Linked DNA regions of Homo sapiens. The protein of the gene in region 1 interacts with the protein of each later gene in a biochemical or structural test. Each region holds a gene or a part of one and is shown on either strand. Other genes may lie near its edges. The genes, in order: CCDC6 and CREB1.

What was found.
Region 2: the proteins of CCDC6 (region 1) and CREB1 form a complex in vitro, tested with the Homo sapiens proteins (one study listed by BioGRID).

What each region holds. Positions count from the first base shown.
Region 1 is NC_000010.11:59,896,062-59,903,556, reverse strand, and holds part of CCDC6 (coiled-coil domain-containing protein 6), read left to right. Parts: intron 1-7,495.
Region 2 is NC_000002.12:207,532,690-207,540,184, reverse strand, and holds part of CREB1 (cyclic AMP-responsive element-binding protein 1), read right to left. Parts: intron 1-7,495.

The DNA.
Region 1 (7,495 bases):
AGCAAGTTCAGGAAGACACATTGCCTTTTTGCCACACCCTGGGGAAGAGCCGGGCTCTTTTTTTCCCCCGACTTGTTTTGTTTTTTAATAGACTTTATTTTTTTAGAGCACTTTTATCTTCACGTAACACTGAACATAAAGTACAGAGATTTCCCACGTAACCCCTGCCTTCACACGGGCACAGCCTCCTCCACCATCAACATCTTTCATCATAGTGGTCCATTTGTTATAGTCAGTGAACCTACGTTGATACATCATTATCACCCAAAGTCTAGAGTTTACTTGGTCTTGTATATTCTATGAGTTTAGACAAATGTATAATGACATGTGTCCACCATTATAGTATTACGCAGAGTTTTTCTGCCCTGGAAGTCTTCCACGCTCTGTTCATCTTTCCCTCCCTGCAAACTCCTGGCAACCACTGATTTTTTTTACTCTCTCCTTAGTTTTGCCTTTTCCAGAATGTCATATAGTTGGAATCATACAGTATGCAGACTTTTCACTTAGTAAATGCATTTAAGTTTCTTCCATGTTCCCCAACTCCTATATCTTGTTTTCTGTTCAGAGTTAAATAGTATTTCATTGTTTGGATGTATCATAATTTATCTCTTCACCTCCTGTAGGGCATCTTGGTTGTTTCCACCTTTTGGCAATTATGAATAAAGCTGCTGGAAATATTCATATGAAGGGTTTTGTCTGGAAAGATATCAGTTCATTTGGGTAAATTCCAAAGAGCATGATTGCTGAATTATATGGTAAGAGTATGTTTAGTTTTATAAGAAATTGCCAAACTGTCTTCCAAAGTGGCTGCATCGTTTTTCATTCCCACCAACAGTGAATAAGAGTTGCTTTGGCGGGGCCGGGCGCGGTGGCTCATGCCTGTAATCCCAGCACTTTGGGGAGGCCAAGGCAGGCGGATCACCTCAGGTCAAGAGTTCGAGACCAGCCTGGCCAACATGGTGAAACCCCATCTCTACTGAAAAAAATACAGAAAAATTAGCTGGGGATGGTGTTGCATGCCTGTAATCCCAGCCTCTTTGGAGGCTGAGGCAGGAGAATGGCGTGAACCCAGGAGGTGGAGGTTGCAGTGAGCCAATGTCGCACCACTGCACTCCAGTCTGGGTGACAGAGCCAGACTTCATCTCAAAAAAAAAAAAAAAAAAAAAAAGAGTTACTGTTGCTCACCAACATTTGCTGTAGTCAGTGTTCTAGATTTTGACCATTCCAATAGGTGTATAGTAATATCTCTGTTATGCCCTTTTTAAAGCCAAGTCCAAAGGCTAATAGAAGCTCTTAACCAATGGTCTCTTCTGGTATGTAAGCGGCTATTCTGGTCAAACTACCCATTTAATGAACGACTAGTTTCATGGGCCTGTGTTCTCAGTATCTGTATAATAGTGGTAAACATCATCTGTGGGAGACAATCAACAGTAAGCAGTCTTTCAGTCGTGTCCACAAGCGCCCAGTGCACCTGTGAGTTATAGCCTGCCCTAGGCCATTTTATTTGGGGCTTAAAAGTGGAATAGAATATTTTGAGTGATTATTCAATTTTCCCCATGAAGTCAGCAGGGGAATCAGGCTACTGATTACAGATCATAATTTCTTTTTTTTGGAGTAGGGGAAATAAACAAATGCATAGTCACCTTTTTGAGTAGCTTTTGTATGTTAGGCCAGATCTGTTGGTTTGTCCTATGAGTGAGAATGTGATTGTGGATTATATGATTCAGTGTAGTGAGGGTTATTGTGGGGTGGTGGTCTTAGAGAAGGTGAGGAAATGCAATTGTGGGCAGTAATTGGATGGCTTCAAAGTTCTCAGCTAGTTGCTGGCATTCTCCGTGTATAAGCAGGGCCTCAGGTGGTTCTCTAGGGTGTGTACCTCTTCCAGGCAGTTTCAGACCTTTGGTATGTGTTTGGTTTGGAAATCAAGGCCTATAATAAATCACTGATATTTAAGTGTCTCTCTGACTGTAAAATTAATCCTTTATTGTAGAAGTTAAGGGAAATACAGAAGTACAAGGTGTTTTGAAGTTATAATAGAAAAATATGTTGGTCTGGCATGATTAGAAAACCTGGCTATTTTAAACATCAACAGTGTAATGGTTTCATTAACCAATAAAATCTGCCATATAGTTGATGTTGTATATTTTGGATTATTTACTCTGGAAGTCTAATATGTTATTTTCAATTTTTAAGACTTTTGTCAGACTCTGAAGCTACAAATCGATATTGCCTTTATAAATGTGACGATGAGAGTGTGATGTCTTTTTTCCCCCCGTTTAGAAAAGTATTTCTTAGATTCTTATGGAAACACACAACTTTAGACACAACTTTGAGGAAAATATGACCTCACAGTTAGGTCTAACTGTACACAAGTCTTCTTAAAGAGGCCATTCTCCTATTTCTTCAGCATTTACGAGTTTTTTCACATTTGTAAGTATCTTCTATGTGTTTCATATACTCTATTTGTACTTAATTTTTAAAAACCGTTTGTTTTTTTTGTGTGTGTGTGACAGCTTTATTACCCAGACTGGAGTGCAGTGGTGCGATCTCAGTTCACTGCAACCTCTGCCCCCCAGGTTCAAGTGATTCTCATGCCTCAGCCTCCCTACTAGCTGGGACTACAGGCATGCGCCACCATGCCCACCTAGTTTTGTATTTTTAGTGGAGGTGGTGTTTACCATGTTGTCCAGGCTGGTCTCAGAACTCCTGGCCTAAAGTGATCCACCCACCTCTGCCTCCCAAAGTGCTAGGATTACAGGTGTGAGCTACCATGCCCAGCCAAAAGCTGAAATTTTAAAGGTCATGACAGTCTTTTACAGTGCTTCCTATTTGCTAGAGATGGGGAATCATTAGAGAATTCACAGTATCTGGTTTGTGGTGACTCTTGTTCAGGACCAGAGAGGCTGGTCTACAGCAAAAATTGAAGGTAGCCATTGCTTGCTTAAACATATTGAATGACTCCCCATTGTCCTTGGATCCAGGTGAACCTTCTGGTGGTTTACCAGGCTCTGCATGATTGGAATGCCCTGCTTGCTTCACAGCCACACCTCTTACATGCGTTTAGCCCAGTGTGCATTCTCTAAGCTCTCACATCACTCCTTTACTACTAGCACCCAGAACTTCAGTAGATTTCCTCTGGCTCCTCAATGGTGCCGCTCGTCCCCTTAAATGTTCTTCTGTATTCCTCCCCTCTTTTCTACCTTGTCAGTTGAAATAGACTGTACTGCCTTCTCCACCTGAACCCCTTCCTGGTATGCCCTGATACTTCCTCTTTGTCAGCCACACACCGGGGTATGCACCTGCTACTGGGGTATGCACCTACTTCCGTGGTTCCATAGACACCACCCCCCCCACCCCACGTCACTGACACTCGACTATCGAGATCTTTCCCGGTTCATGTGTAAATTTCTTTGGGGGCAGAATTTGCCTTGTTCATCACATTCCTCAGTGCTTGGCATGTGAGAAACACCCAGAAATTTGTTGAGCTGGCTCCAGAGGCACGGGTATGTATGTACTTGTTTCTTTCTGTGATGAAGGTGCCAACACTCTCTCTGGGACCTTGTCTTCATAGAGCCACTCCCCTGCCACAACAGCAAACACTTTCTTTACCATAGTTGATGAAACAGACCAGATATGTGAATGGATGCATTGTATACTTTGGGGGACCATTGCAATCAGTGTGCCCTTGCCTTCTAGCTTTGGGTGATGTGGGCTACCTTGCAGCATACACCTGGGTGTTCCTGATAACATTTTATCTGAAAGGGGACAAAGTATTTTCAGGTTCTCCTTTCTAAGTGTTTCTGAGCAGGGCTTGGAGGAAAAAGTAGCCCCATTGGAAGTGTTCAGATTTGCTGCCTTGGTTTTGGTGATGGTGGCAGATCATTCCAGGTGTTTCCTATGACTCTTTAATGTTGAAATGCACCACTGGGAAACAACTCTGGCCCATTGCAGGGGGATGCAGTAATGCAAATAAATACTGGTGACCTGTAGCAGTGATGGGGGAAGCATCTGAAAACAGGGTAGGGGGATTGTTGAATTCTTACGTCTGCTGTGTCTTGCAGAGACACAAGTGTCACCACAGTGTATTTGTGTGTGTGTGTTTTCCTTAAATCATGCCTTGCCGAAATAATTGTGTTTACACTTCAAAATGCTAATCCAAACTACTGAACTGCAGTCAGGCTGAGTAAGGAATAATGGTAATCTTTTCTGTCCTCTCTGCATACTTTTTTTCCTTAGTGGGTAGGTGTTGCTTTTTGTTTTCAATCACATTGTGGTTGTTTTCAGGTATATTGAATTGTCAAAGTTGGCAGAGTAAATGTTCACAGGTTCAATATGTTCCTGCTTGGTGATGGTTGCAATTTTCTTGACAGAGGAACTAATCCTCTGGAAAATATTTTTAATTGTGAGGATCTTGGGGTGGTGTTAACTTGCAGATTCTTCCTACTTCTCCAAGGCTGTCAAATTTTCTTATCTTTTATGGCTGTGAAATGCACAGCTGTGAAGTCTATTCCAACCCTGATACCAGTAAATTGCAAAGGTCACTTTGTGTAGGTTCTCTCTTTAGGGATAAGTATTCTTTTAAAAAAGGCTTAACAATATGATTGATGGTCATTTAGAATTAACCCTCCCCTTTACTTATTGGTTCCTGGATCAGACATATGGAGTGCAATTTAATGATTATAGTTCATTACAATACTCATTTGTTTTTTGCTGGGAGATTTTTCTGGTCTCCCCTCTCTGCCCCCGCCTTTGTTTCTTCAGTAAGGTACAAAATGGCATGTAATAAATAAAATAAATATAGCCTCAAAGAGGCAGGATTCAGCTGTCAAGTGCTTATAATACTGTGTGCTGGATACAAATATCCAAAAGGAATGTTAGGGCTCTCCCGGTAGCATAGCGAGGATTGCACTTGACTTTCATTCAGCCTGGCCCTGGCCTGGTGCTGTAGGGAATACAGAGCAGAGGGAAACAGCCTTTCTCTCCAGCCTTGGGGATTGTGCAGTGCAGAAGGAACCAACACACACATGGATGCAGGAAGGGAAGCTTAGGCCGACTCCTGTAGGGGTTCCCAGGGAGGGGAATTTTACCTTCCAGCTTCCAAAATGAAGTTCATCTATCTCTGTGAATATCTTTAAGGGTAACAAGTTATCACATTCATTCACAGTTTAATTAGCTTGTAGTTTATTATGTAAGGCAGAGATGGGGAGAGCTGTTGCTCAATTTATGCTGAGGTGGCACTGGGAGGCTTTTGGTTTGTTTTTAATTTTTGTTTTTATGTGATGATGATTGAAAAGAAATGTCATTGATATTTTAATTTCATAATCTGCATCTGTCAGTACATGGAAATTATCTAGGTGGTTTTTTTCCCTCTATTCCTGTTTCTTTCATGGAATAATGGTGGATGGACGGAATTTCTCAAGTTTTTAATCCGAAACTATCTGAAAGCAAAGACTTCTTGCAGTAAAATTAGAGGTACTATTTTATAGGAAATTTTGAATTCTAGTTTTTTACAAAAGCAGTGCTGATTGATGGGCTAATCTTCCATGCATCTGTTCCAGATCAATCCAGCCTTGTGGTGCCAGGTGTGTGTCCAAAGTGATCTGGGTAATACCCACCAGGGCATCTCAGGGCACTGAGGATCAAATGAGGCCACTTGGTACTGCAGAGCAGAGTTGGGATGTTCAGCCAGGCATAAGTCATCATTCAAAAAGTTTTCCATAGGAGGAAGGACGAGAGTAAAAGAATGAAAGCAGCAGGGATTATGGGTGACCTAAAGAAAATTCTTAGAAATCTAGTTACCTGTGTTAAACACTTCACCTGTTGCTTCTATAAGTGAACAGTTTGAGTCTTTTGTGCTGTCTGCTTGTTGAGATTGAATTAGAGAGGCTAAAAGGGACAGATCTGAGAGAAAAATAATTATACCTGGAGTTTCATATAGATAACTTTTCAACTCATGAAATTACTTGTATGCAAGCTTGACTTTTTAAAAATTATCCTAATAGGCCAGGTGTGATGGCTCACGCCTGTAATCCCAGCACTTTGGGGAGGCCGAGGCAGGCGGATCACCTGAGGTCGGGAGTTTGAGACCAGCCTGACTAACATGGAGAAACCCCTTCTCTACTAAAAATACAAAAAATTAGCTGGGCATGGTGGTGCATGCCTGTAATCCCAGCTACTCGGGAGGCTGAGGCAGGAGAATCGCTTGAACCCGGGAGGTGGAGGTTGCGGTGAGCCGAGATTGCACCATTTTACTCCAGCCTGGGCAACAGGAGTGAAACTCCATCTCAAAAAAAAAAAAAATTATCCTAATATACCAACTCAAATGATAACTTTTATTCTACTGAGAGATGTTTTTTGTGGGGTGGAGTTCTTCACTAGACCAGAGTTTATCTAAACAAAGACATCCGTTGAGTCAAAACATCGTGTCTTCACTTCATTTAGTAGCCCTACTAATCTTTGAGGAAAAAATTGACTAGGTGATTTTATTGTTTTTATTAACCAAAGAGTACTGTTTTAAGTGTATTCTCCATAAAGTAGAGTTAGACTTCTTCAGGTTCAAATCACTACCTGGTAAGGGTTTATGTCCCTTGGAAAGTATATTAACTGTTTTATGCCATTTTGAGCCTTGCATGCATGGGGTTTATATTGTGAAATACCTTAGGTACCCAGAGAAGAGTACCAGTGACTTTTTTTGCATTTTTTTTTGTGATAAAAACATACACAACATATAATTCACCATTTTAACCATTTGTAAGTGTACAATTCAGTGGCTTTAAGTACATTCACAGTGTTTTGCAACCATCACCATTATCCATATCCAGAACTTTTCATCATCCCAAAAGGAAACTCTGTACCCATTAAACAATAACACCCATTTTTTTTTCCTCCCTGGTAAACCTCTATTCCTAGTGACTTAATTTTTTTTGTTTGTTTGTTTTTGTTCTTGTTTTTGTTTGTTTTTTTTTTTAAAGAAAGACTTACTCTGGTCTACAAAAGCTGCTAGCTGCTTTTTACTGTCCTGGTCTTGAAGTTATAAATTTGGACCTTAAGTGTTGATGTCTTATTTTAACTTAAGTTTGTACTGCCTGTTAGCTGTCCCATATATGGTTCTTTTCTGTCACTCAGCAAATGTGCAGTGCCCTAGCCCTACGCCCAGCTCTGGGCTTGGTGCCAGTAAGCACCCAGATGTGGAGATGCTGGATGAGGGAATAACCCATGGCAAGAGCTTGTCCTCCAGGAGGGAAGGGTCATCCCCCCATATCTTACCCCCAACACTTCACAGATCATGGTTGCTTTTTATTTTTTATTTTTAATGAAATGTATGCATTTAATTTCCTTGATAGCATTTGGAATAAACTGTAATTTTATTTTTTAAATTACTTATTTTTATACTCACAGGTACAGTTTATTACAGGGAAAGGATGCAGGTTAAAATCAGTCAAGGGAAAAAGCATATAGGGCAGAGTCCAGGAACGTTTTTCATTGTGGAGCTTCT
Region 2 (7,495 bases), on another chromosome or scaffold:
GAATACCTCCTGAAGGACCTATCTGAAGTTCTTAATAGGTTTGCTTACACTAGCACAGGACCACTGTTGTATATGCAATCTGTCATTCACCAAAACGTTCTTATACAGTGCATGACTGTATATCTCTGTCTACACTAAGGAGAAGAATTGGGAGTCAGGAAATCTACATTTCAGCCCAATTTATCATTGTATTCCTGTTTATATCTTACCTTCTCTTACATGAAACTCAAAGCTCCCTGCCTCATACTCAGCATTCCTCAAAATGTAGATCTATAATCTAATACTTTCTTCACCAATTTATGAGTATGTCAAGTTCATTATATGTCCATGTTTTCATTTTTTTGTCCATTCCACTGCCTAGAATACACTCCATTTTATCTGTACTTACTGAAGTTCTTTAGTATTCAACTTGAATTCTACTTCTCCCACAAAACTTTTCCTCACTAAGCCCCTTCTCTTCTGAACTCTGTAGCTCTTCAAGACAGTAAAAACTCTGTCATGTACTCTGGCACATATAAATCATTCTTACACTATTTCATCATCCCTACTATACCGTAAGATTCTTGAGGGTAGGAGCCATATAGTCAGGCTTTATTGCTTATATCAACTAGAACAATCTTCATTTAATACCTAGGTATTTTTATAAATACCTAACTGAATAAATTTTCTTGCGATTATTTCACCAACCATAATAAAGTCAATGGTCAATAAATCTTCACTGAATAAATGATTGATAAATGGCAATACATAAAGTCAAGGTGTCACCATTGATCACAGCAAACAATAGAGCTACTACTGATACTTATTATAAGAAAATGACTCCCCTTTAAGAGTACAAATAGGGCTGGGGGCGGTGGTTCATGCCTGTAATCGGAGGCTGAGGCAGGCAGATCACATAAGGTCAGGAGTTCGAGACCAGCTTGGCCAACATGGTGAAATCCTGTCTCTACTAAAAATACAAAAAAAAAAAAAAAAAATTAGCCAGGTATGGTGGCACATGCTTGTAATCCCAGCTACTTGGGAGGCTGGGGCAGCAGAATCGCTGGAACCCAGGAGGCGGAGGTTGCAGTGAGCCGAGATCACACCACTGCATTCCAGGCTGGGAGACAGAGCGAGATTCCTCTCAAAAAAAAAAAAAAAGAGTACAAATAATTCAGAATAATCTGTAATTTTCACTTCAGTGGTGAAAAACAAGGTATTTCTGTGTCCCCTACTGCCAACTACTTACTTATACCAACAGGGATAACAGCCCTCAAAAATAATGGTTATTTAACCTTGGGTAAATTACAAACATTTTTAGTTACATCTGTACTGTCATACAGTTACAACCAAAAACTCACAAGTAGATAACCAGATCCTTAGAAATTCACTTAAAATTGATGAAAGAAACGTCTTCATTTCAGAGAAGATGCACTAACCTTTGGGAAAAGACACATTCTATCATCATTGGTATAAGTCAACTTTCAGATCCACTCTACTCCTAAACTATTTTATTAATAACTTCCCTTTTAACCCTTTCTTATCTAATCAAATGTCACTTCTCTTCTTTCAGAAAAAACTCACCATCAATTCCTTAGACCTCATCCTCTCAAAACCTCGCCCCTTTTAAGATTATTTTTTAGAGATCCTAGAATCATCCAAGAGGAAGAAAACTGAAAGGGTGTTTTTCATCTTTGTTCACACAGCTAGTCTCACGGTAAACTCCTTTATCACCTTATTTCAACTCTAAGAAAAGGCAACTTAGCATCTGTAAGTTCATCAAGGAGTACTACTGTTTATTTTCTTTTTTAGGAGTTGAGATTATGTACCTAGCTTCAAGAATTTTTTAATACACAGTGATTTTTCATCACTGGAGATGTATAATGCACGTATTAAATTATAGGTAATTATTCATCACTGGAGAAACTGCCTTCTCATCTGTTGGAATAAACGCCAGAATACGTTTTTCTAAGCTAACATCTTTCTGGTAGCCTAGAAGACAAATGAGGAAACATCTGGGCAAAATATAATACAGGGTAAGCATCCCTAATAAAACATCCAAAATCTCAAACTTTTTGAGCACTGACATGATGCCATGAAAAATTCCCACACCTGACCTCATGTAACAGTTCACAGTCAAAACTGTTTCATGCACAAAATTATTAAAAATTTTGTATAAAATTACCTTCAGGCTATGTGTATAATGTGTATATGAAACAAATTTCATGTTTAGACTTGGGTCCCATCCCCAAGATAGCTCATTATGTATGTATATGCAAATATTCTAAAATCTGAAAAAACCCAAAACTGGAAATACTTCTGGTCCCAAGAATTTCAGATAAAAGATTCTCAACCTGTAAAACCTATCTTCATAGGGCCTTGTCTGGCAGAGCTTAAAAAGAGAGAGAGAAAAGGCAAAACAAAAAACAACAACAAAAAAACCCAGTAGATAAGACAAGAGTGTGTATATATTAAGGGGAGTCAGACATTCTGAATGTGAATAAAAACTAACGTCTATTCTTATTTAAGTTTTGTCTCAAAAACCTACATTTACAGATGTGATAAAACCACACCTTCTACTTACAACTTCAACAAGCTGACCAGCATCTGGCTCTTCTATAATGACTAAACTAGCATATATTTAATTGGCAGAGAAAAAACAACCACGTTCACATTATCAGTTTGCTGCTTTAATGATCTTTGCCTCCACCCCAAGAGGCAATCCACTGATGATTCCATGACACTGTGGGAAATCATTTAACTCTGTTAGTCTACAGATATGTTCCAGATAAAAAACGTTCTGCCTTTACAGATTTCAATGATCTACCCCACCCCCATCCCCAAATATGTAAAGACAAGCACTTTGTAGGCCAGGCGCAGTGGCTCACGCCTGTAATCCCACCACTTTGGGAGGCAGAGGTGGGTGGATCACGAGGTCAAGGAGATCGAGACCATCCTGGCCAACATGGTGAAACCCTGTCTCTTTAGCTGGGCATGGTGGCAGGCGCCTGTAATCCCAGCTACTTGGGAGGCTGAGGCAGGGGAATCGCTTTAACCCAGGAGGCGGAGGTTGCAGTGAGCTGAGATCGCACCACTGCACTCCAGCCTGGCAACAGAGAAAGACTCCGTCTCAACAACAACAACAACAACAAAGCACTTTGTAAACATTTTAATCATTTAGCAGGTACAAATAGCACACAGTAATATTTTATTTATGAGATGGCATCTTGCTCTGTCACCCAGAGTGGAGTTCAGTGGGGTGATACTGGCTCACTGCAACCTCCACTTCCAGGGCTCAAGCAATTCTCCTGCCTCAGCCTCCCAAGCAGCTGGGACTACAGGCGTATACAACTATACCCAGATAATTCTTCTATTTTTAGTAGAGATGGGGTTTCACCATCTTGGCCAGGCTGGTCTCAAACTCCTGGCCTCAAGTGATCCGCCCGCCTCGACCTCCCAAAGTGCCGGGATTACAGACGTGAGCCACCACGCCTGGCCAAATAGCACATAGTAATATTTTAAATCAAATATTAGTAAAACCTCAAAACAATATTCTTACATTAAAAACTTTGTATATATGATCAACGCATAAACACCAACTTGGGAATACAAAAAACGAAATATACCATGACAGCTTTTGTTTTTTTCTTAAGACAGAGTTTCGCTCTTGTCGCCCAGCCTGGCGTGCAATGGTGCAATCTCAGCTCACTGCAACCTCTGCCTTCCAGGTCCAAGTGATTATCCTGCCTCAGCCTCCTGAGTAGCTGGGATTGCAGGCGCCTGCCCCCATGCCCAGCTAATTTTTGTATTTTTAGTAGAGACGGGGTTTCACCATGTTGGCCAGGCTGGTCTCGAACTCCTGACCTCAGGTGATCCACCTACCTCAGCCTCCCAAAGTGCTGGGATCACACAGGCGTCAGCCACCGCGACTGGCCCATGACAGCTTTACTTAATGATGTTTTCTGGAAAGAGATTTGTGCCCTTGCTGCTATATTATTAATCACTTTCTGAGTTTAATCAACTCAAAAAAGTCATAGTGTGTACATTTTAAAGATAAATACAAACAGCATGTATATTTAAAATGTACTACAGCATTCGGGCATGGTGGCTCACGCTTGTAATCCCAACTCTTTGGGAGGCTGAGGCAGGTGGATGGCTTGAGCTCATGAGTTTGAGACCAGCCTGGGCAACATGGCGAAACTCTGTCTCTACAAAAAATTAGCCGGGCCTGGTGGTGCGCGCCTGTTGTCCCACTCACTCAGGAAGCTGAAATGGGAGGATGGCTTGAGCCAGGAAACAGAGGTTGCAGTGAGCCAAGTGTGTGCCACTGCACTCCAGCCTGGGTGATAGAGCCAAACCTTGCCTCAAAAAAATAAATAAATAAAAATAAATAAATAAATAAATAAATAAAAAAGTATTGTAGCTCAATGCTGTTTCGAAAAGCTAGAGGAAAAAAAAAAGGTAGTGAAACGCATTTTGTGCTTTGGCTGAAATACGTATTACTTGGTCCAACTGGTTGACCAAAGGTTTCCCCACGGGGGTAAAAAAATCATCTATGCAGTAAAGTTTATCATCTCAGCAATCATATAGGTGAATCTCACTATTTTTAAATTTAGGTACAAAATATAAAACTCACATAATTACATTAAGAAATACTAGAAAATCGTCAAGGTAAGTTAACAAGTATGTAAAAAATAAATGAATGCAGGGAGAAATCTAGTATAGTAATCAGCCTTACTGGGTAATAATATCCCATGAGCTGTCTGTTAAAAAAAACCCAAAAAAACACCGGACTATATGAAATGTTCTTTCTCATTAAGAAAGAAAGCTATAAAAACCTTTTGGGCCAAAATAATAATTGAAAGAAGTAGTCTGTTCAGAACTGTAAGAACCTCAACAAAAGAGTTAAATTCACCTTGTGAGTTAACTCTTAACCTGGCTTGCTTGCCTCCTCATGTACATTTTGATCATTTTACTAAAACTTTTAAAAACTGGAGTTAAACAGGAAATGAGGGACTTTAAATAACAATTTCCTGTCACAAACTATTTATTTTTCATTCAAATAGAAAGTTTTTCATTTAAAGAAATAAAGGCAAGATGGCAGTTTCCCTTAGTTTAAAAGGTAATATAAGACCTAAGAATAAAAGCAGCTCACTAACTGGTTAATACAGTCTACTTACATAATAAAATGCTTCCAATTGTATGTTAAAAAATGAAGAAGCTCTTTATGTGCTGATACAAAATTGCTAAGCCATATTAAGTGGTGGGGGTAAAGCATGATATAGGAGAGCGTATACCTAGTATGCTACCATTTGTACAAAAAGGGGGAGACTGTACATACATATTTGCTCGTGTTTGCATAAAACACCTCTTAAAGGACAAATAAAAAATTGCTAACACTTAGGTAATAGGGCAAGAGAATGTAGGGCATTTTGCTGTTATTATGTTTTGAATTATAGATCATGTGAATGAATTACTTATTCAAAAAACCAAATTAGAAATATAAAAAATATACTCCTCACTTCACCAAAGGTGATCCCTTTTTCCTTTGACTGCTTTCTTTTGACACATATTTTGCCTTAGTCACTGTGTCCCCAACAGTTCCTGAGGGTAGAGATAAGACAGCGTAATTCATCTTTGGATTTGTTGTAGCTTCTGACCCACTGTATTACATATAGTAATAATAAATAATTTAAAAAGTAACAGACCAGCTGGGCGTGGTGGCTCACGCCTATAATCCCAGGCATTCAAGACCAGCCTGACCAACATGGTGAAACCCTGTCTCTACTAAAAACACAAAAATTAGCCGGGCGTGGTGGTGCATGCCTGTAGTTCCAGCTACTAGGGAGGCTGAGGCAGGAGAATCACTTGAATCCAGGAAGCAGAGGTTGCCGTGAGCTGAGACTGCATCACTGCACACCATCCTGGGCAACAGAGCAAGACTCCGTCTCAAAAAAAAATTAAAACAAAAGAAAAAAGCCTTGTCAACACTTGAGCACTTGACACTTGCACAATGCCTGGGACTTAGTATGTATTACTTTATAGTTAACCCCCACAATTCTGAGGTAGTTGTTCTACACTGATCAGAAAGGAAAGTGAGGTATTAAGAAGTTAAGATAACTTGCCTAAGGGCCCACAGGTAGGAAGTTAAAATAAAGCTTAAGGGACTAGCTATCATTAGTTGTAGCCCTAAGGTACTTTATGTTTATCTCGCAATCTTATGAAATAAGTAGTAGTATTCTAATTTTACATATAAGGAAACTGAGGCTGAGAAAGATTAAGAAACTTCCTTCAGGACACAAAATTCCTTTAGGGTGGGTACAGGATAGCAGTGGCAATGCTTGGATTCAGACCTAGGCCTATGATTCCAAACCTCATGCTCTTTCAACTACATTCTCTGTCACAGTGAGTGCCAAATAAATATTTGAATTACCATAAACTGCTGTCTCAAGTGATACTGCAGTACAGATGAGTTTACACATGGGTAAGAAAAAAAAAAATCCTGCATTTTTCCATCTTGACATCTCATTACATTCTTAAATTTAGATTTGAGCTCTATTCAATAAAGAAGCCATCAAAGTTACACCATATATCAAGATATTTGCAAAACTATGTCACAAGCTGGCTGTAAACAAGTTTATGTAACTCATATCTGATAAGCTATTTATGGAATAAATGAAATTATAAATTTCGGTAATATATTGTAAGCATTAGGTTAAAAATAATTTTCTGTTATAAAAAGTAGAATTTAAAAACACGTGAGGAAGACATACTTGGTTTTACTATAACCCCATAACCATACTGTATCCAAACAAACAAAACCAAATGTCTTAGAATGAGAGAGAAATAAAGCTACTTCTCTATGAAGAACCCAAAATTTCTAATAATGAGACCTAATCAAGAATATGAGTTTCAGAAAGTAGAAAAAGGTGCCATTTTTATGGATCAGGTGTCTAAGTTTCTTCAGGCTCTTTATGTAAACAAAAAAAAAATCATTCAAAACAGGTAACACTTAAGTTTTAAATTCCCAAAGAAGTGTTCTTTTAACATTCTTCAAGCAAACTCTGTCAAGTAATTTATTAGCTTTCTAAATGTAGGTGTTCATGAAAAAAAAAAAAAGATTCAAGCAGATCCAGCTGTAATTTTTATCCATGGCTGGAACAGTGCAGAAGTACAATTTAGTAACATGTTCCAGGTGAATGTTCAAGTATTAATGAATACAAGTTTGAAGTTTCACCTGGAATTGCTAAGAATCACAAATTATGAATGTATAAATAATAAAACAGGCCGGGCGCGGTGGCTCACACCTGTAATCCCAGCTACTCGGGGGGCTGGGGCAGGAGAATTGCTTGAACCCGGGAGGCGGAGCTTGCAGTGAGTGAGCCGAGACCAGCCCACTGCACTCCAGCCTGGGCAATAAGGGCCAAACTCCGTCTCAAAAAAACAAATAAATAAAAATAAAAATAAAAAATACAATTTAAAATATCTCTCGGGCAAGACTAAAGAAAGAACTTAT